Linked DNA regions of Homo sapiens: all the other regions are linked to region 4. The links come from fine-mapping of genetic effects on gene expression. A gene starts in region 4. Each other region holds a variant in brackets. All regions are shown on one strand. Distances are from middle to middle.

The links. PIP is the estimated chance that this variant, and not a neighbour inherited with it, causes the effect. A credible set is the group of variants that fine-mapping cannot tell apart.
Region 1: its variant is the best candidate, but not a certain one, in a credible set for the expression of FXYD6-AS1 in cerebellar hemisphere (GTEx, PIP 0.57).
Region 2: its variant is fine-mapped to the expression of FXYD6-AS1 in whole blood (INTERVAL, PIP above 0.99).
Region 3: its variant is the best candidate, but not a certain one, in a credible set for the expression of FXYD6-AS1 in whole blood (INTERVAL, PIP 0.53).
Region 5: its variant is the best candidate, but not a certain one, in a credible set for the expression of FXYD6-AS1 in whole blood (INTERVAL, PIP 0.54).

What each region holds. Positions count from the first base shown.
Region 1 is chr11:117,859,494-117,863,827 of GRCh38, reverse strand. All of the region lies in intron 1 of FXYD6-FXYD2 (FXYD6-FXYD2 readthrough), which reads left to right. All of the region lies in intron 1 of FXYD6 (FXYD domain containing ion transport regulator 6), which reads left to right. Among named protein-coding and RNA genes, the nearest start is that of FXYD6, 15 kb to the left of the region's middle. The variant T/A (reference allele first, on the strand shown) is at 2,553.
Region 2 is chr11:117,900,121-117,904,454 of GRCh38, reverse strand. It overlaps TMPRSS13 (transmembrane serine protease 13), which reads left to right. Exons shown (of 13, transcript NM_001077263.3): 11 at 354-496; 12 at 648-800; 13 at 2,190-3,814. The coding sequence ends at 2,216. Among named protein-coding and RNA genes, the nearest start is that of FXYD6-FXYD2, 26 kb to the right of the region's middle. The variant TGTGTGTGTGTGC/C (reference allele first, on the strand shown) is at 2,371.
Region 3 is chr11:117,852,818-117,857,151 of GRCh38, reverse strand. All of the region lies in intron 1 of FXYD6-FXYD2 (FXYD6-FXYD2 readthrough), which reads left to right. The region is part of intron 1 of FXYD6 (FXYD domain containing ion transport regulator 6); the gene reads left to right. Among named protein-coding and RNA genes, the nearest start is that of FXYD6-AS1, 21 kb to the right of the region's middle. RefSeq lists an enhancer at 910-1,410. The variant C/T (reference allele first, on the strand shown) is at 2,533.
Region 4 is chr11:117,831,687-117,836,020 of GRCh38, reverse strand. It overlaps FXYD6-AS1 (FXYD6 antisense RNA 1), which reads right to left and starts at 2,303. Exons shown (of 3, transcript NR_186291.1): 1 at 1,960-2,303. All of the region lies in intron 6 of FXYD6-FXYD2 (FXYD6-FXYD2 readthrough), which reads left to right.
Region 5 is chr11:117,801,553-117,805,886 of GRCh38, reverse strand. It overlaps a transcript of DSCAML1 not described here. Among named protein-coding and RNA genes, the nearest start is that of DSCAML1, 6.5 kb to the right of the region's middle. The variant C/T (reference allele first, on the strand shown) is at 2,247.

The DNA of each region.
Region 1 (4,334 bases), 28 kb before region 4:
ATTTTTTATTGTTAATGTATAGAAATGCAATTGTTTTTTGTGTGTTGACCTTGTGTCCTGCTACATTGCAGAATTTATTAGTTCTTACAGTTTTTATGTGTGATCTTTAGGGTTTTCTATGTATAAGATGATACCATCTGTGAACAGAGATCATTTTACTTCTTCCTTTCCAATTTGGATGCCTTTTACTTATTTGTTTATTTTGCATAGTTGCTCTGGCTAGGACTTCCAATACTGTGTTAAACAGAAATGGTGAAAGTGGATATCCTTGCCTTGTTCCTGATGTTAGAGGAAAAGCGTTAAGTCTTTGACCATTGAGTGTGATGTTTGCTGTGGGTTTTTTTTTTTTTTAAACTTATGGCTTGTATTATGTTGAGGTAGTTTCCTTCTATTCCTAATTTGTTGAATGTTTTCCTCATGGGAGGATGTTGATGTCAAATGCTTTTTCTGCATCAATTGAGATGATCGTGTGGTTTTTTTTCCCTCCGTTTTGCTAATGTGGTATATTATATTGCTTGATTTTCATATGTTGAAACATTTTTGCATTCCAGGAATAAATTGGGGCCTCCAATTTTATTTCCCTTAGTTCCTGCCCATTTCCACATGTGCCAGGGAGGCAGCAAGAAAGAGTGGAAGGTGCATGGCACCAGCAGAATTAGTGACAGTTCCAGGTATGCTTTTGTTAGCTGTTGGGCCTTGGGCAATAGCATAAGCCTGAGCCTCTCCTTTTCTAATCTGTAAAATAGCAGTAATAACCAACATCCCATGGAGTTGTGATGTTTCTTTGAGCTAATGCTTGTAATGTTATCTGGTGAATAAGGTGTCTTATAAATGACTGGTGTATAACATCATCACATCATCATCATCATCATCATCATCATCCCCTTTGACCAATGTGGGCAGGGAACAGGAATATGCAACATGTAAGACACAGCAGCTCCCCTTTCTCTTTTGACAGTCACAGATACACTGAAGGGCCCAGGCCTGAGGGACAAGAGTTCCTATCTTGATACATCTTGCCGTGACCTCCTCAACCCAAGGAGGAGGGAGGAACAGGGCCATCTTAGGAACAGCACCTTGGTTTTGCAGAAGTCCATTTGGCCCTGCCTGTGTGTCTCAGGGCCCAACCCTTCTAGAGAGATACCCTGAAGGGGCCCTTTGTGGGAGGCAGTGGCTTCTCCTTGAATGACCTTGGTGAAGGAAGAAGATTGGGCATGGTGACCAGAGGAGGTGGCTGAGGACCTTGTGGGCTGGGCCTCGGTCTGGGATAGCCGCAGCTCCTGGTCTCTTTCCAGCAGAGACACTGTGTCTTCTGGGCAGCGGCCCTGTAGCCAGGGAAGGGCGTGAGTTGTTTTCTCCCAGGAACAGCAGCTGTCTGTTGACTTTTCCTTCTCATACCCTGCCCTGGTGCATTTTCCTGTCTCTGCTTTTAGGTGCATCTGTGTGAGTGGGGCACGCAGGGCATGGTGGAGGCACCTAGGGCATGGTGGAGGCACCCAGGGCAGCCGAGGCCTCAGAAGGAGGAGGATGACGTGAGGGCTTGCTTGATGCTTCCTCTAAAGCCAATTCTCTTCTCTCAGCAGCCTCCACCTCTCCTGGCTTCACCACCTGTGTCCCTCCTTCCCATTTTCCAGCTCAGTTTCTGCGGGGACTTGGCCCCTGGGCCAGCCTCTCCCGTCTCGAAGCCTCTTTCTTTCTCTTTCCTTTGCCTGCCTCTCCCACTTCCTCTGGGGCATCGCCTTTTCAGTTTCTCCTCCTCCGGGTTTTCTCTCCTCTCCTGCTGCCTCATGTCCTCTGTCTGTCTTGCTTCTGTGTCTCTCGTGGGGGTGCCCTCAGTTTGGGCCTGGGAAGATGTGTCCCTTGCTTTAGCTGTCCCAGCCAGATGTGTCCTCCCTGGGCCACATATCTGCAGCTCTGGATGACATAGGATGTTTGTCTTGAGGCAGGAAAAGGCAGTGGCCGGGAGCCAGTGTCAGCTGTGGGCCGAGGCCCCTCCACATCCTGTGACCTCACGAGGACCCTCCACGTCCTGTGACCACACGAGGACCCTGGAGCCTTCCAGTGGTTGGAGGACAATGTTAAAAGGAAGGGAAGGGGGAGGAAGTAACTGGGCCCTCTCCCTAGCCCCTATCTCTGTTTATCTTTCCATTTTCCTGGAAAAGGTAGAAATGAAGGAGGAAGCCAAGGACAGAGTTGGGCAGTGATACAGTAATGATACTAACAGGTGATGCTTCACCAGCAGTTACTATTCGCCAGGCTGCACTCAGCTCCGTCCACAGGCCGTCTCTTTTCATTGCAAATGACAGCAACAGAACTCCATCTAATTTAGTTGAAGCAGGGGTATCAGTTTACAGAGCCAGACTCGGGAAGGGTGGGGCCCTCTGGTGTGGGAACACAGGAGCCTGAGGCACAGCTAGGAAGCTCTCTGGGCCCCTCCTCCCTGCCTCTCTCCCCTGCCAGCTCTGTACCTGTCAGCTATTGGCCGACTTCTCCCCCAACAGACTCCTCCTCCTTTCATCCGGCAGGATGCTGAGGTCTTTCCTACCATGTCT[T/A]TTAGCTACAGGGAAGGAGCTGAGATTGGCAGGCTCCCATAGACCAGCAGGGTTCGAGTGGGGACAGAGCAGGCTCCCTTCCAAAAGGGGATGTCATTCACAGAAGAGGGGACTGATGTGGGCACAAAGACCACCTCATCTGACCCTCACTGATCCCGAGATGCATGCTGTTAGGCCCATCTTGCAGTTGCAGAAGCCAAGACTCTGAGAAGCCAAGTAACGCTCCCGAGGCCACAGAGCCACTGAGTGGCAGAGAGGAGGGAGAGCTGAGTGCTCAGAGCAAGGACCCTGGAGCCAGGTTGCTTGGGATTGAATCTAGGCTCTGCTACTTTCTAGCTCTGGAATTTGGGGCAGCTTACTTAATCTTTCTCACCTCAGTCTGCCCGTCTGTGTAAAGGGAATGATCGTAATAATAGTTGCTTCTTAGGACTATTGTAAGGGTAGAATGAGTTATATAACTATTTAGAACAACACTTGGTATGGCATGAGCACCTTACGAATGTTACATGTTGTTATCAGGGTGTTTTACAGTTTACAAAGAACCTTCACACCTATTATCTCACTTGACCTTGATCATAGCCTTGGAAAGTGGACAAGGGAACGGACTGGCAGATTCTGCACTGATTCTGCGCTGCCCGCACCCCATGCTCTCACCCTCGGCCTAATCAGCTTCAGGGTTCCGTAGCCTGTTTTTAAAAATCCCCCACCCGAGTAAACAGCTCTCTGTTCAACAAGTGAGTATCAATGCTTTCTCAGGGGTGAGCTGGCAGGATTGTACATTCTGCTGTCTCTCTAGCGCACGAATATGTATGAAGCTAGAGATGCTGGAAGCTTGGTAAATGTTCATCCAGATGCGGGAGCCCCTGCATTGTGGCTCTCTGCGCAGAGCTCTCTCAGGTACCTGTATCTCGCTGCCTCAGCCTGCTGGACTGGGATGGGAATGAGAAAACAGGGTGGCAGCTACCTAGAAAAGGTGGGCCCTTCAAAGAGCCACAGTGCAGGTGGCCCCTCATGGCTCTTTGCCCCCAAATGGATGTGATCCCTCCCTGTGAGGTGGGGCCCAAGGGCTGGAGTTTGGGGCTGGCTCTGGGATCGAAGGAAACCTACTCATAGCAGGAAGACTCCCTGCCCTCCACCAACAGCCAGGCAGACAGAGCAGGGCTGAAGTCCAGAATCCTGCACTTATTCTCCAGGGCACCTCTCTTTCCCTACCTCAGTTTCTTTCCCTGTAAAATGCTTTTGACGATAACAAAAGGCCTTCGGCAGACATGGAGCCCAACTCCTCACTCTCTCACACAGGGGAGCAAGCAGGTGATGAGAATAGGCCTCTCCCATGACCCCAGCTGTGCGGTAAGGTGAGCTTGGTGCAGGTGGCTATTGCTGTAGCGTGGATCTGAGTAGCGTACGACCAGACTAAGGATGAAAACAGGGAAGCTCCGGACTAAAAATTATCACAGACAGACTGGTCAGATGTACTGGGAGAGAGGTGGGATCTTTATATTCCTAAGACCTTAGCAAGTCTTACTGTTTGGAAGGAAAATAGGGGGAGGACAGTTTGATTTATTTGTGCTAAGCAAGAGCTTTTGGAGACAAGGGACTGGCTCTGAAGGCTTTTTAAGGCCTCCTTAGTTCTTGGATTTCATGAAAGGGCCACAGGTGCACATTATCAGTGTTAGCATCGGGTTATGTTTAAGGATTAAGTGAGAATAAGCATTTAAAGCACTAAGAATAGTGCCTGGCCTGTATCATTTGTCGTGATTATAATTATTACCTCTTGTATCC
Region 2 (4,334 bases), 68 kb before region 4:
CACATAGCTTCCAAAAACAAACAAAGCCATGTATCTGAGGGTGCTTTGAACGTAGGCAAGTGCTGTGCAACATGTCGGGTAGCCTGATAGGCTTGTGAGTGTGTCTGTGTGCATGGATGTCTCTGTCTCACGTGCAGTGAGCTGTGTCTTGTGTGAGGGCGTGTGTGCCCATATGTCCTGGGTGTCCAACCACAGAGGGCCTCCCTTGGGTGGGAGCCAGGCACGGGCATGGCACCCTCCATTCCCAGGAGGCTGTGATTCTGGGTCTTGGGGTGGCAGCTGGACGGCCAGGAAGCTATCTAGAATCTCACTGGCTTCCCATCCTCTGTCTCCTCCACCCCACTTCACTGAAGACAAGACATCCCCCTTCCTCCGGGAGGTGCAGGTCAATCTCATCGACTTCAAGAAATGCAATGACTACTTGGTCTATGACAGTTACCTTACCCCAAGGATGATGTGTGCTGGGGACCTTCGTGGGGGCAGAGACTCCTGCCAGGTGAGGGTACCTGTGGGTGGGGCTCAGGTCCCAGCACCCTGGGGATGGGGGAGGCAGGGGTGTTGGGGCTGATGTGGGAATTGGGACCCCACCCTTTCCCGCTCATGGACCACCTGTCCCATCCTGCGAATGTGCCCCCTCTCCCCTGCAGGGAGACAGCGGGGGGCCTCTTGTCTGTGAGCAGAACAACCGCTGGTACCTGGCAGGTGTCACCAGCTGGGGCACAGGCTGTGGCCAGAGAAACAAACCTGGTGTGTACACCAAAGTGACAGAAGTTCTTCCCTGGATTTACAGCAAGATGGAGGTAAGATCCCTGCAGCAGGACACTGCACCCAGCAGGCTGGGAACTTCCTCAGGTGGGGACCCTGGAGGAGCACCCAGGTTGTAGGCAGAGGTCCCCTCAGCGTCCCCATATTCGGGGGGTGTTCTGGACAGGGTCAAATGTGATGCCTGGGGTCAATCCCAGCTGTCTGTGTTTCTTTCCCTGCTTTTCTTCCCTCAGAACAGAGCTCAGCGGGTTGAAAAAGGGTGGACCTACAGGCCAGGCAGGCAGTTGCTGGGCAGATGTTCTCCCAGAAGTATTTTTTTGTGTAAGGTTGCAATGGACTTTGAAAACGTTTCAGTTTCTGCAGAGGATTTTGTGATAGTTTTTGTTATCAAGCATTTATGCATGGGAATCCGCTCTTCATGGCCTTTCCCAGCTCTGTTTGTTTTAGTCTTTTTGATTTTCTTTTTGTTGTTGTTGTTGTCTTTTTTTAAAAACACAAGTGACTCCATTTTAACTCTGACAACTTTCACAGCTGTCACCAGAATGCTCCCTGAGAACTACCATTCTTTCCCTTTCCCACTTAAAATATTTCATCAGAACCTCACTACTATCATAAAAGAGTATAAAGTAATAAAATAATAAAAAGTTATTTTATGTTTTTTGACTTGCTTTAACCTATATCCAACCTCAGAAGTCATTGCTCAGGTCAAACTGAACCACAGACCCTTCAGTGTGTGCCTTACCTTGCCCTTGGCCTTTGGAATACTTGATCCACCCTAGAGAGTCCCCTCTCCCACTTCCACCCTCTCATCTTCCATTTTTCTTACTGAAGAACTCTGACTAATCTATCAAAATCAGCCATTTACAATGCCTGGAATATCCTCGGTATTTACTATTTATTGTTATAAATTAAGGATGAATGAATAAACAAATAAATGAAAAGAATAAAAGGTGGGCCTCACCTCGGTGCCAGCCCCAGTGCCACTCTCCTCTCCCAGGGATGACCGAGATGTGAGTTCACACAGGCCGCTGGCAGTGGAGTGATGGGAGGCCTCCCTCCACGGCAGGAATTTCGGTGTCAGGAAACAGGGATCTGCCTGCAACTCTGCTGACCTAGTTGAGACCCTGCCTTCTCTGGGCCTTCAGCCTTTAGCTGTAAAGCAGGGGGTGCTCTGCCAGCCCTCCCCTTCTCTGCCTGGGGAACAGGGGAGGGCTCAGATAGGGGGAGCAGAAAAGGCTCCAGAAATCTAGTGCAGAGAGGCCCTCCAATCCTGCATCCATCCTTTCCCTTTGCTCTCCCTCCTTGGAGAGGCAGTGCTAGGTGACAGCGAGGCTAAATTATAGGTTCTGAACCCCAACCTTGGGCTTCTGTGCTCCTCGCCCACCTGGCCCACCCTCACCCTCTTCTCCCATTCTCTTCCTCAGAGCGAGGTGCGATTCAGAAAATCCTAACCAGCTGGCCTGCTGCTCTGCACAGCACCGGCTGCTGTGAAGACTCTGGCCATGGTGACTGGCCATGTGTGGCATCATCTGGGCTAATGGCCACCGGGCACCATCGGACTCCCACCTCCACTGTCTGCTGCCTCTGTGTGTGTGTGTGTGTGTG[TGTGTGTGTGTGC/C]ATATGTGTGCATTGCCACTCTCCCAAGTTTTTCAGAAACCAGCAGAGCTGTCAACTCTTCTCAAAATCCCAGGCTGGAAATTACCTGGAGACAAGAGTTGAGTACCGTGGATGTTCCTACAGGAGTGTCCATAGATGGATGGAGGAGGTGGAGCCCAGAGCCCAAGGAAGAGCTGGGAATTCTTGCTTCTCTGACCCTCACTTACAGACTAGCCCAGTGTGGGCAGATGCCAGCGGCCCAGGTGGCGCCATTGCTGTCCTGGGATGGATCGTGGGTTTTGGTGGATGCAGCTTCCCAGGGCCTGGACCGTCTTCGGTGAAAAGCTGCTCCCGTTGGCTTTATGAGCATCAAGTCCTCACCCAGACCCCCTGCTGGTGCCGTGGATGTCACCAGTCGGACTGTGCTGTGGCTAACCAGGCTGACAACTGAGATGAGGATTCACTGTACTCATTTGGTCACAAGCTGCTGGGGCGGGTTTTATTTTATTTTATTTTTATATTTAAGAAATGAAAATACGGGTATTTTTAAAGATTCTCCAAAAAGTCCAGAAGCCTTGACAGCTGGCATCAATCAGCCCAAGACCCCCAGGGGATTCATGGGAAATGTCGTATTTTAGAGTCCTACAGAATATTTCTGGCCTCAAGGAACTGGATGAAGAGACTGGACAAAGTCCCCAGGATGGGCATCCCCCAAGTCACTACAGCATCTGGAGCCCCTAGGAGATACTCAGGGAAGCAAATCCTTGTTTGGGCTGGCAAGCAAATCCGACACGACGAGGTCCACAAACTGTTTCTGCATCCCAGGGCTCTGACGAAGGCGTTAAGAAACAGATGCTGTTCCCGCGTAGGCTCCCAGGGGCCCCAGGGAGGTCCAGGTGGACTGCCTCTCTCATTCCCAGTAGCTGTCCTGGGACTTTGGGATTTCTTCTCAGCTTTCTCCACCTTTCAGTTTCTCAGTTGTTTCAGAAACATAGCAATGACATAAAAACTGCTATGGAGAGAAAGCTAACATGGTCCCATGCCTTCCAGGCAGCCCTGCTGAAGGATCTAAGTTGGCCCTGTTCCTGCAAATCATCAACGTGCCTGGACTCGCCAGCTAAAAGCCTGGGCCTTCCCCAGCCTTTTTTCTGGGGCACCTATTCCTCTGCCAGTCCTGCTCCCCTCACCTTCCTTGGGCCCGTCAGAGTCTTTTGTGGTGCTGTGCTTCTCAGAGGCAGGATCCAAGCAGATCAGCCCAGCCTAGCCCAGCTCAGGCAGGCCATGGCCGCTCAAGGGAAAGACTGCCCCAGAAGAGCAAGCTGGAGAGGCTGGGCAGGGGCTGATGGGGCTGGGTACACTGGGGAATGTTAGCAAGACTGGGAAGGAGGCCACATTCCTGTCTGCAGCAGCCGCCAGCGATGGTCTTCAGCAATAAAAGTTGTGTGACCTGAGACATCTGTCTTTGGATGTTTTACTGGTACCCTAGGTAACAAATTGAGGTTGCCCACCCTAGTGCCCAGACACTCTTGGTTTTGGTTCTTAGTTTTGGTTCCTCATCTTTGGGTTCTGCTCATTTAGCCATACATTCATGTATTCATTCCATTCACCAGCTGCATCCGTGCCTACTCTGTGCCCGGTACACATGCTAGGCCCAGAAGATACAAAGGGCATGACAGCATCCTCAAGGAACTGGGTCATGACCCAATGTGATAGAAGCTGTGATTGAGTGTGGACACCACGCATGGAACATGCACAGAGCAACCACCAGCCACACCTAGAGATGTCAAGGAAGCTTCACAGAGGAGGTCAGGTTTGGAATGAACCTTCACAAAGCAGGTGGGGGCAGGGGAAGGGCACTCCAGGGCATGTTCTTACCCTCTTCCTCTTCCTCTACTTCTGCCTTTGCTGGCTCAACAACAGACATGTTGACAAGGAAACCCCAAAGCTTACTCAGCTATTTCCAAGGGAATCGG
Region 3 (4,334 bases), 21 kb before region 4:
CACTGTCACCTCCCATCTCCAATCCAAGGAGGCTATCAGTGGCAGTGGCTTCCCTCCTGCCCTCTCATGTCCCTGGCCACCCCATTCCTGCAGGGCCTCGCCCTCTTCCCTGGCTCCAGCCAGGCTACCCCCCTTCCCTTTGGCATTGGGGTGGGCTCAGCCTTCCTTCCCTCTGTTCCTCCTGGCCACTGCTCTGCCAGCCCTGTTCTGCCCACCTCCCAATCCCAGCACATCAAAACAGCAGTCAAGAGTGGGAAATGCATGTTCTGAGCCCTGCCCTGCCCCTAAATAACTGGATGAATCAGGTACCTCATCTCTCTTTGGGCCCCAATTTTCACAAATAAAAAGCAGGAGCCCAATCACTGTAACCAACTGTGATGAATTCTGTGATGCTAACTCCATCTGGTAGACCTCACATCTTGGTTATACTCAATATATACACAGTCGAATCTTTTTTTAATAGACTTCTTGGTTGCAAAGATCTAGATACGTCATAGGCTAAATCATATCCCTTTGCATATAATAATAGTCTAGGGTAACCATTTAGACTAAACTGTGGGGCCCAGGCATTCTGCGGCCTCATAAAAGGCCCCATTCCGGGACGTTCTGTATGAAGTGAGACCTCATCTTTCTTAGCAGGGCATCCTGCTAAGACCCAGGCCCGGTGACCCCTCAGAGCTTGTCATCCGTGGGCTGAGCCTGCAGGAAGGCAAGCAGGTGGGATGCCAGGGGAGGCGAGTGAAGCTTCGGGAGCAGGGGGAGGGAGGGATGAGGATGAGATAATGAAGTTTCACTGTAATTTGGAGCCTCTGCATTTTCAAGGGAGGTTGTTTCTGAGTTATTTTCACAATGGAACTGGGTATTCTGATCTACCTCACTGCTGCGTGGAATCAAAAATAATAGAGCATGTTGCTATATCATCAACTAGTGGCTTCTCTTTCTGAGCAGTTTTTACCCAGCAATTAAGTGAAATTATGTGACTCAGTATGGGAAGATAATTGCCGGAGAAACTCTTCTGATTGCTTTCTCCCGCACATGCAGCCAGCAACCAAGCAGGAGGATCAGAGAGGAAAATTAACATGGAAGTGCTGCTTCCACCCAGAACCTCAGCTGCTTGCCAATATGGAGATAAACAAGAGCACAGAAAGGAGAGGAAAAATGAGCGGAAACAGAATTCGTTCTCATAATACACCCTAGAGGAGGCAGCAACGTGTGATTGGTTCCATTCTCCAGATGGGGAGAGTGGTCCAAATGGTCTAGAGGGGAAGAGTTGGGGAGCAAGAGAGTGAAGCAGCCAGGGAGTCCCCCACTCCAGCAGTGATGATTTCTCAGGCCCCCTGTGCTGGCGAGCCAGGTCCTCAGGCCCCCAGGCAAAGGTCCAGGGCCCAGTGCGCAGGTGGCGGTGCATGCCCTGTTCCTGTGCCCTCTCCGCTCACTTCAGCCTTGGATCTCCTTCCCCCAGTGACTCCTCCTTCCTGTCTTCCATCTACTCCTTAGAATCTCTCGCCCGGAACTGAGATTTTTCACCACCCAGCCTCTTACCCTCCCCACCCCAGCCAGCCTCCAGCAGCCCAGCTTCCTCTCTGGAAGGAGGGAGAAAGGAATGTGTGGTCACTGGGAGGGTGGGAGGTGCAGAGGGGTGGTATATGAGATGGAAGGGAAGCCAAGCTGGGTGCAGCAGTGAGACAAAGGCATTCTGTGGCCCTTCAAAAGTTCTGTGTATGTACTTGGCCACTCGACTCAGGGGCAGTGCCAACGTACCACCGATGAGATTTTTAAAAATGGGTTTAGGCCCCCCTCCTCCCCGCTCCCGCCACCCCGAGGGGCCCATGCTGAGGTGTGGTTGATGTAGCCCAGGCTGGGACAGCAGCTTGCAGGAGTAGAGAATGGGTCACTTTTCAAATTTGTGACAGTATTTCTTTTCACACTGTCACTTGATCAGAAATGTTTTCTTTAGAATACAAAGGCAGGTCTTAACTCTTTAGCTTGGCACTCAAGAGCCTCTGCAATCTGATTCCAACCATCTTATCTGAGTTCTCACCACCCACCCCATCATGCTTTAGTCCAACTGGGTTGTTCACTGTTTTGGAAGATATCTTACACTAGAAATGGCAGCTATTTGGTAGGTTGCTGTCACAGCCCCCTCCTAGGCTAAGCAGACATTACTGGTGGATGAAGGCCGTCTCCTGTTGGACCTCATTTGGGGAAGCCACTTTGGACAGTTACTACTGCATGAAATGCGTTAAGGCTCATCTTGAACTGATCTTGAACTTGAGCTGAATCCCATTTGTTGTTCCTACTCTCTGTTTCCCCTCTCACTGCTTTTGCTCATGCTGTCTTCTCTACCGGAATGCCTTTCCTCTGCTCTTTCCTTCCCCCTGTCTATCAAAATCCTACCCTGCTCTTAAGGTTCCGCTGGAATGTCAGCTCCTCCACGGAAACTTCCCTAGCTCCCTGTTGAGCTCTCTGCTCCCCTTCTCTCTGTCTTTCTGGACTATTGTTGCATGGCGTCTGTACCTGTTGGGAAGTTCT[C/T]GTCATATTTGCTGATGGATCAGAGCCCTTTGCCACCAAATCCTACTTCTCCTTGGTAGCTAAGGCTGTATCTTGTTCACCTACTTATCCTTTGCAGAACCCAGAATAGTATGGCCCTTTCTAGGAGTTCAGTGTTGGCTTGTGTAATGGATTTGAACCTGAGCATCAATGGAGGTGATTGTTGGGGTTTGAAGGGAAGGCACAGCAGCAACCTGAACTGCTGCCCATTGTCCCTGGTGGCCCAGAGCCATTGACATGTGCTTTCCCTATTCCCAGGGGGCAGGAAGAGCCCTATTGCCAACACTGCACTCCCTCTTCCGGCTAGAGCTGGTCAAGAGGCCACTGTGGGAAGCCTGGTCCATTTGTCCTTCCCTCTCTCACCTCACATCCAATATTCACACCATGGCCCCTAAGATTTGAAGGCCTTAATGTGTTGTTTCATCTACCTTCCACATCTTGACTCCAGTCTCCCTCCTCACTGGCTAAGCAAGGAGCAGGTGTAATTTGGAGATGGGACTTGGGCTAGGAAGCAGCAGTAAACTGGAGAAAGAAAGAGAAGGAGAGAGGGAGGGAGGGAGGTGTTTTACAGATAGCAGATGCTCAAAACTTACCTTATTTCATACTTTGATTGAAGATATTTTAGGACTGTATGACTGCCTGAATCATAAGGGGACTTTCCACTTTAAAATAATTAATCCCAGGTTTACTATTACACAGCTTGGTTTAAAGAAGGAATGAAAATCATCCAATCTTAAGTCACCGTTACTCTCCCCACACCAAACACTACCAAAAAGACAAAACAAAACAAAAACCCCATGAGATAACTGGGCCAGGCATGGTGGCTCATGCCTGAAATCCCAACACTTAAGGAGGCCGAGCCAGAAGGATCACTTGAGGTCAGGATTTCGAGACCCAGCCTGGCCAACATGGTGAAACCCTGTCTCTACTAAAAATACAAAAATTAGCTGGGCATGGTGGTGCATGCTTGTAGTTCCAGCTACTAGGGAGGCTGAGGCAGGAGGATCACTCAGGAGGCAGAGGTTGCAATGAGCCGAGATTGTGCCACTATACTCCAGCCTGAGTGACACAGTGAGACTCTATCTCAAACAAAACAAAACAAAACAAAAACTAGCACTGGAGTATGTGAAGCTTAGCCAGAACTTAAGCCATAGTTACTCTTAGAATGCACCCTCATTGACATTACTGCATTCTGTAGGCTAATCAGCATTGAGTCCAGCAAGGTTGGGAAGCCAAACCTGAGACTACCTGCATGAAGCCAAGAACCCTTGAGAGGGGCTAAAGTGATCTCAGGTTGGTATCTGCTGCCCCCAGCCTCCATGAAAAAGCAAAGCAAATGCTCTCTGAAAGAAAGTGTCCCATTTTAGGACTACCAATTTCCCACAGATTAAAATCTAGCAAATATGAGCTCACAATCGAATATATTACCAAACACAGGAAAAAACAAGTCACTGTGATTGAAAGGCACAGAAACAAAAAGTAGATTTTGACCCCCAAGGATTTAAGAGTTTGGAATTATCAGATACAGAATATAAAATAACTGTAAGAAATGTTGAAAGAATAAGAGATGAGAACACAAAATGAGTGAACAACAAAGACTAACACAAATGCCCAGGCAATTTCAAAAAGAACCAGATAGAACCTTTAGAAATTAATAATATGACCATTGAAACACAAAAGTAAATGAGTGGGTTAAGCAGCAAATAAAAACAGTTAAAAAGGAAGTCAGAAAATGGAAAACAAATATGAAATAATTACCTGGAATGTAGCATAGAGAAGGAAGT
Region 4 (4,334 bases):
AGCTGAGATTACAGGTGCCTTCCACCATACCCGGCTAATTTTTATATTTTTAGTAGAGACGGGATTTCTTCATGTTGTCCAAGCTGGTCTCGAACTTTTGGCCTCAAGTGATCTGCCTGCCTCAGCCTCCCAAATTGTTGGGATTAGAGGCGTGAGCCACAGCGCCCAGCCGAATCCCTTTCTTGTGCCCCAATCACACTTGTTTGCTGCCTTTATATTCACACTTCATACTTGGCATCCAGACTGTAGAGACCAGGCAGGTAATGCCAATATGTGAATCTGCTGGAGTGACGATGGGGCATGGCACCTGCAGTCACCTACGGTGTCCTCCCAAAGACACTCTGACTCAACTTTCTAAAAACCACTGTTGGCCAAACCAACACAGATGTGGGCAGATTCTGCGTGGAGGTTGCCTGTGTGCAGCTTCTGCCTCTAGTGTTTTGTGTCTTTATTGATACAATTCCTGGAGGGCAAGGACTGTGCCTGCTCTACAGAAGCCTGGAACATCTTAGGGTCTTGAAAAAAGAATCGACCCCTGGAACGTCTTAATATCTTCCATCTTGAAGCCAGCACTTAAGGAGCGGGACCCTCTGGGCCCACCTCCTTCCAGCCCCAACTTCTAAGACCCCAGTGAACCTGGCACCTGAAGCTATAGCAGGAGACAGAAGTCAGTGCTCCTTGTGGTTTCGATGGGCCTGGGAACCACCACCTTCCCTGCCCAGTGGCCACACAGGCCCTGAGTCCGCCTGGATTCCGCAAGTTGTTTAGAACCGAAGAACCGCACAGATCCGCTTGCTCGGTGCCTTCTCTACGTGTGCTCTTGCTTCTGCCTTCGGTCCCCCAGGCCTTTGGAAAGACACAGGCTTATGGTAGAGCTCAAGCTCAACCTGTCAACCCAGTGATCATGGCGATTAAAAACTATCTGGTCACAGCAAGACCTGGTAAATGAGCTTATTGTTCGGGAACACTCGTGATACATCAGGGAATTGACAGGCCTTGCAGAAATTTCATAGCGAGGCCAGGCTGAGATCCCTAGAGGCCCTAGACATGCAAAGCTTTGTGTGTGCCGCCCCCCATACGTTAGTAAAAACAGAACATTATACTTCGACATAGGAATAAGGAAGTCCAATGAGGAGGTTCTAATTTTTCTCATAATAATTATGTTAAGAGTAAGGAATGATGGTCAGCATCTCTAGCACATCATCTACAAATGGTTATCCTTACTTTGCCCGCCTCTAAGCACTCACTTAGTTTTCCTCCTAGTAATCCAGCTATATTCTGAGATTGGTCAGAGATACAATCGTCCTGGTCCAGGTTACACAGCTGGGGGATGGAGGAGCTAGGACTTGACCCCGGGCTGTCTGTCCATAGTGCTTGTCAGCACATGGCCTAGCCTCCTTCAGCAGGCAGATGCTCAGAAGAAGGGACAGTGATCAGATGGCTCCCAAGACTGCACCTGGAGCATGGCTGCCCCTTCAAGACATAAACTAGCTGGACCATGCTCCAAGGAGCCTCCTGTGGGAGTCTAATGGTCTGGAAACAAGACACATGAAGAACAATCGAAGAAATGATGGTCAAAATGGTAATAATTAAAAAAAATGAGCAGCTGAAGTTTATGGAGCACTTACTATGTGCTTGTTTGAGGACTTCACACAGATGAGCTGGATCAGAACTCAGAGTGCTATATATCTCCATGAGGAGGACCAGGAGTGTCCACTCAGCCTCCAGGCATGTGGCACTGGTTTGTAGCTGTGATTTGGTTTAATGAGGCAATGTAGCTTGACTGAATAAGAAGGACAGCTGCCATGCTGTGTCATTTCCCAGAAGGGAATCCCAAGTTCCCTGTCTCAGTAACCTCAGGTGTCCCACACCTTTTGCCTCCCAGTGACTCCCTCCACCCCCCATTCCATTTCGAAGATCTCCATGTCTCTTTGCCTGGAGGTTTTCTGCGTTACTTACCCCTGCTGTAGGAATAGGTCAGTCTGCCTTCTGGGACCCCAGGTGCTGTGGCCCTCCTACCTCTCTGTTTTTTGTTTTTTGTTTTTTTTTTGCAAGATGTAGATTAGAACTTGCCAAATTGTTCTTGGAAGAGAGTCAGAGGCAGAGTACAAGCTGTAGGGAGCGGTGTGAGGGGAGTGCCAGGCGAAGCACACTCCAAGGTCACCGGGCTGTTGGCCCCTTCCTCTGGGAGGAGGGCCTTACCTTGCTTGGAATCATGGGCTTGGCGGGGAGGCTGGGCAAAGCAGGGGTGGGAGAGCACTCCAGCTCTGTCTGGTTCACCCCACCTTGTTCCTGGCTGCTCTGCCTCACCCTGGGCCCAGCGAGAGAAAGGTCAGGTGTGTTTGCCTGAGCCAGGGGAGGAGCTTTGGAAAAACCTGTCTCCAGGCCACAGAGAAGGAATGGCCACCTCTCTCCATTAGTGTGATTTATTGCTGTCACAGCTGAGCTCCAGGGGGGCAGACTCAGCCGGCTCAAGCCAACCAGCTGTTGATCTGATGGGGCCAGCCCAGCCCCGGGCCTGGTTGCACAACAGTGGGGCACCTGCCAAGGCAATGATGGCAGAGCAGGTGATGCTGTGATCGCATGTCCTGAAGGACCTGGATGGCAGGGACTGGAGGGGGTGGGCCCCCCTGCACTATCCAGAAGAACGGTTTCCTACCTCTGAGCTGGGCTTGGAGGCAGTCTGGTAGAGCCTGAGGCTCAGAACATCCCCGAGGTCCCTTCTGCTCTAACAGTGTGAGCTTGGAAAGACCCCAGCCTCTCTGTCAGTTTCCTTTTCTGAATAATCAAGTCCTTCCTAGCTTTGGGGTAAGCTGGGCCTCCTGCTCACTGTGTAACCCTGGAAAAGCCACTTAAGCCTCAGTTTCATCACCTATAAAATAAATGCATCAAGATGTTTTCTGTTATCTCACAGGGTCAAAGTGATACAATGGACATCGAAGCACCGTGACAATTCTCCATGTAGCCATTATGCTATAAATGTTGGCATCACTATCCATTTCCTTGTCTCCTCATTCTCTGATGGCCGGGTTCCTCTTGTCTCTGTTAGACTTGGGTTCATGTTCTGACCTGTTTGCAGACCACCTGCAGTGTCCTCTGTAAAATGGGCATCTCACAGCCTGCCTGGCTGAATTGTTGGGAGGCTCTAAGCAGCTCTTTGGAACCACTGAGACCCTGGAATAGGGTGGAATTGCTGCCAAGTGTGGAGAGTGGGCACCAGGCTCAGTGCAGGTACAAACGTTTAACAGCTTACCCGACCTGAGGCCTCAAGGAGGCCAGGGACTTGGCAATCTGTGCTATAAATGAAGAGAATGGTGACACGGCCACATGCTGGCCATTCAAGCCATGTCAGTGGCATCCGGAAGGTGGTGGAGGGAAGGTAAGAGTAACCAGGGGTGGGCTTGCTCCGCGAGGTCTTCCCGGAGGTGGCGAGCCTCTCCCAGAGGTGAGAGGGAGTTTGGTTACTGGGAGGAGAAAACCAAGAAAAGCTGGAGAGGAATGGGCTCTGTTGTGGTTCAAGCCTGGATGTGAGTTCTGAGAACAGTCAAGAATGCATTTCTCTCCAAGGCATTCACTGTGGGGGAGGTGGGTCAAATGGGTTTGCCCTTGTCACCAGCTGGTGACCTTGACTCTCAGAGTACATTGCCCTTTGGCAGTTCTCAGAACCTCTGTGCACCATGGCTCAGGCCTTCTTGAAGCCAACACTTAAGGAATGGACCCTCTGGGGCCCACCTCCTTCCAGCCCTGCCTTATAAGACCCCAGGGACCTGGCACCTGCAACCATAGCAGGAGGCAGGAGCCAGCGTTCCTCAGGATTCAGGACCTCTGAGTGGGACAAATGGGGCTTGGGAACTGCCACTTTCCCTGCCCAGTGGCCATACGGGTTATGCAGCTGAGGACTGACTTGGGCCTGGGGTCATGGCTTTCTAGGTGCTTCTGGCTTCTGCTTCATTGGAGCCCCTTTCCAGCTGCAAGCCAACACCAGGAGGAACTGATCTGGGGACCTGGAGTTCAAGGCTGTAAACTCCCACAAAGGCCAGAGCTGGCGGAGCTGGAGAACCCCATTCTGGGAAGCTGGTGGTGAGGGCCTCTGCCTTTGATCACCAGGAAAACAGAGGTCAGCTGGATTCCAGCCTATTTCCTCCCTGCCCCACCAACCCAGCAACGACCACCCCAAATGACTGCCCTGAGACTTAGGAGTCAGGAGACAAAAGGGAGGCCTGCCTAGGGGAGACAGGGGAGATGGAGGCCTCGCCACTGAGGGCACGGTCCCATCAGCTGTGACAGTGCTGACGCATCCAGGAGTGGGCACTGCCTCTACCTCCCAACATCTC
Region 5 (4,334 bases), 30 kb after region 4:
CACTCTGACCTGCTGACTCTGAGCATGTAGGCTTCCCTGTGTTGCTCTTTAAACATCTTCTACTCCACTGGAATGCAAGCTTCCTGAGGGCAGGGACTCTGTGCTAGACTTTCCAGGGATCGGGGAACTCCTTGCACAGGGGCTGGGCACAGAGTTGCCAAAAGAATGAGTAAACCAACAAAATGTACTTCCTTTAGGCCAGGTGTGGACCAGAAACAGTGAAAGAACAGAGTTTTTAACCAGGAGAAGTGGGAAATGGATCCCCCAAAACCTCATACTGTAGCACTTGGAGATTGACAATGCCCACCAGCGTGTTAAAGCCTGCAGTAAAAAACAAAAACAAAAACAACTCCCACAAAAACCTATTTACCTTTGATTATTCCACTGTTTTCCAAACCTATTTGACCATAGATCAGTTTTTGCACCTTACCTATTACCTTCTCATGAAACACTTGTGAAATGCTATGTTAGATCTTTTTCTGTTTTCTGCTGGATTTATCAAAAATAAGGTCAAGTTTGGTAAAGATGCTGGGTTTCAATGTCATTGTGGCCTGAAATGGGAACCTTATTGCTGCATTCTTAGCTGAGCTCTGCCACCCTCACTGGGGCTGGGCTAGGACCTTAGATGACATTCTGAGTCACCCATTGTGTAAGTAAGTGCCATTTGACCCAGGCAACACCCCATTTCCCAACTTTCACCAAATGATGAATGGGATCATGTTTTCTCTCAAATAATCCACATCAGGATTACAGGCCAAGGAGGCCAGTTCAGTAGAAGTTCGTGGGATAGTGGTCCAGAGTGATTGGCATGTCAGCCCAGGAAATCCAACAAAACATTGGACAACAGTAAGAGAAGATCAGCTACCTACTGAGGGGGTGATGGCGCTGGACTGGAGCTGCTCAGACCTCATCCGGATTCATGAGTCTATTCTGTTTTAAGAGAGATTTTTTTTTTCTTTTATGAGACAGAGTCTGTCACCCAGTCTGGAGCACAGTGGTACAATCACAGCTCACTAACATCCTCAGCCTCCCAGGCTCAGAAGATCCTCCCACCTCAACCTCCCGAGTAGCTGGGACTACAGGCATGCACCACCGTGCCTGGCTACTTTTAAATGTTTTTGTAGAGATGGGTCTCCATGTGTTGTCCAGGCTGGTCTTGAATTCCTGGGCTCAAGTGACCCTCTCACCTCAGCCTCTCGAAGTGCTGGGATTACAGGCGTGAGCCACCATGCCCGGACGAGATATTGCTAAAGTTGAATATAAGCAAAGAGGGAAACCAGAATAGGGAAAGGTCTAGAAATTATGTCAGAAAAGAAAAAAGATACGTAGCCTGGCAAAAGGAAGGTGTGGGGGCCTGCGGTAGCAGTTCTTGAATATTTGAATAGCTGTCATTTTGTCCAGATTGGGCACATCTTTTGAACTCCAGAAAGCTAAGGCAGATTTGGGCTTGATAAAGAAAAGCATGTGTACATGACTGTGGACAGTGAAATTAGATAAACTTCTGTGTGGGGAGCAAGCCCCTTTTCCCTGGCAGCATTTGAGAGACTGAGTTGACACCTGTTGGGTCGGTGTAGAAAGCCAGTGGGTATGAGATGGGGCCAGGTGAGCTGAGCTCTAAGGCACTGCCCCCTCTCAGATTCTGTAACTGAGGGGCCAACATTCCCCGTGGTCTCCAGGCAATGTCTTTGTTCAGCCTCACTGTCCCAAATTGCAGCCCACTCACCACTGGGGCACCCCAGGAGCCGTGGCTTTGGCCTCCAGCAGGTGGAATTTCTGGGCCGCACATTTCTCCTGCTCAGAGTGGCTGGAGGACTTGCTAGTGTTTTGTAGCAACTCCTGGACTTTGAGGAGGGTCTCGGTCCACAATGCTGGTGGCCAGTCACAGTGACAGGAGGGATGCTGCCCTGCAGAGAGACCGTGGAAGGCGTTACGGCAGCACCAAGTTGTCTCCCATCCTGAGATCCTCCAGCGCATGGACTGGCAAGTCCAGCCTGTGGTGAAATGGGCAGACTTTCTAGGAAGAGAACTTTCATCATCTAAGTCAAGGTCACCACCATGGGCCTGGGCCTTGACTTTCTCTTCTCTGGGGAGGAAAATCTCTCCAAGGGGGCTTCTGTGTGAACAGCACTGTACAAATACATGATTGACATACAGACTTAAGACCTCTGAGGCAAGCGGGGAGCCCTGACCAGAATCCAGAGAACCTGGTCCCCAGCCACAGTGTAACCCAAGGAAAGTTCCTGGGA[C/T]GGATTCAGGTTTTGCAGGGCTGGAAGCTTAGACCATTGAGGGCTGGAAGCTTAGGCCTCACTAAGGAAAACAATACACAATTATGAATACAAAATTAGATACAAATATGATCATTAATATATTAATAATCAAATGTGATTATTAATTTAGAAAGATAAAAAGAAATTGCAACAAGTTACAAATCTTGAAAAAACTGACAAATGCCATCATGAAATCCAGACAGATAACATAATATTTGTATTAACTGACACACCTCAAAAATGCTTTCTAAATTAAAAAAAATTTTTTTACGTTACTTCTGCTCACAGCTTTACATAAGCTGGCTTTTGGCTCCATGCATTTCAAACCTTGTCTTTCCTATGCTACACACACACCCCTGGTGCAGGCACCTGAGGCCACAGTTATACTGTGATACAACTTCTGGTTCTGCAACTTCATGTCACAAAGCGCAGTGAGCTGGCCCAGTCGGTGATAGGAGTGTTCCTGCAAGCCATTCCCTATCCTGGAAGTACGTGCATGGCCTGTGAACCATATAAATACATTCCACCAATCCCAAGCCAGAGTCAGATCCCCCCAAAATGTTCACCAGACCCACCGAGAAGCCAGAGCAGAAAAGGGTAGCAGCTGTGATTGACAGTAGTTAAACTCTATTATTCTACAGTGTTTTCATATCTGACCATGTGAACACATTACTAGGGCCCTAAAGGAATCTGAAGCTTGAGCTGTGTAAGTGTCATGGTATTAAACATCCCAAATATGCCTCTGGGACTCCTCTGACTTTGTGTCTTCATCTATATAATGATCAAAACAATTCTGGCATATGTATCCAGATCCTTTTAGGTGAGAATCAGAAATGGACGAAAACATAAAGCCTCTGGAACCTAGAGGCGCTGCCTACAAGGTCAAGATGACAACTGTGAAGACCACAGTGATGCGGGCTCAGCAGGAACTGCTGAGACTTCTTTGGTTTTAGGGGTCAGCACTCCTGCGGGGTCTAATGTCCTGCCAAATGCTCACTCTTAGAGACGAGAAACTCCAATACGAGAACTTTCAAGCTTAAGGCTTTGATCCTAGTTAAGGGACATCTCTCTGGAAGGCATGGCACGTGAGGCTGTAATCAGATATCTGCTACCTTATAAGAATGAGCCCATCTGGTCATTAAATCAACACTTACTGAGTGTACCCCTAGAGCCAGGAGGCACCAGGCTAGGGCCTGCAGGTACAAATCGAAAGGGTCGGAGCCCAGTGTCTAGAAGAGGAGACAAGTCAGACACATGCCTAAATAGCCACAATTCTAGACAAAGGGATGAGACCCATGGGCCAAGTAGATGTCTGAGGCAGTGGGAGACCAGAGGAGGCCTGGTCAGGGAAAACTGGGGGTGCCTGACCAGGCCCTGCTGAATGGGAAGCCTTAAACAGGTGAAAAAGGGGGGCACTGGGTACTTGAGAAAGGTGAAGGTTTTCCAGTGTAGAAGACACTTTCATAAAATTTGATAAGCACATTTGTGAGTGACACATGGGCCAGAAGAAATGCCGGAAGACTTGGGAAGCCAGCAAGTTTAGCTCTGCTCATTGCACTTTCTTTTTTTTCCTATCTCTCTTAGTTTCCATACCTTCCACCCCACTGCTCCCCAGAGAGAAATGTGACAATGAGCTTCAGCTCTGTCGAATCCGGACTACATGGAACCTCTCTGGGTTGGCTTCTCAACCGATTTCAGAGTTGTGAGCTGAGAAAGAACAGCAGGAGAGAGGCCACAGTTATTCAGGGGACTCCTGCCTTGCTGGGGGCTTCCGCAGCCCCTGACCAACCATCCTGGTGTCACTGCTGAGACAGCAGCCTGAACAAGGGCAATGGGACCCCAGAGACTGCATCTGTACAGGCGGAGCCCCAGGGCTTTAGACCCTTTGCTCCAGTGATCTTAGAGCCATAATATTATCATCCAAAATGATGAGAGAGTAAGTGGCAAGCATACCTAGACATCTTCTGAGCCCAGCAGACAGAATTTTGGTTTAAGGAGAACCTGGGTAGTATAATGACACATAATATTTTTTTATATATAGGCATCACAGTCTATGAATTGTACTGA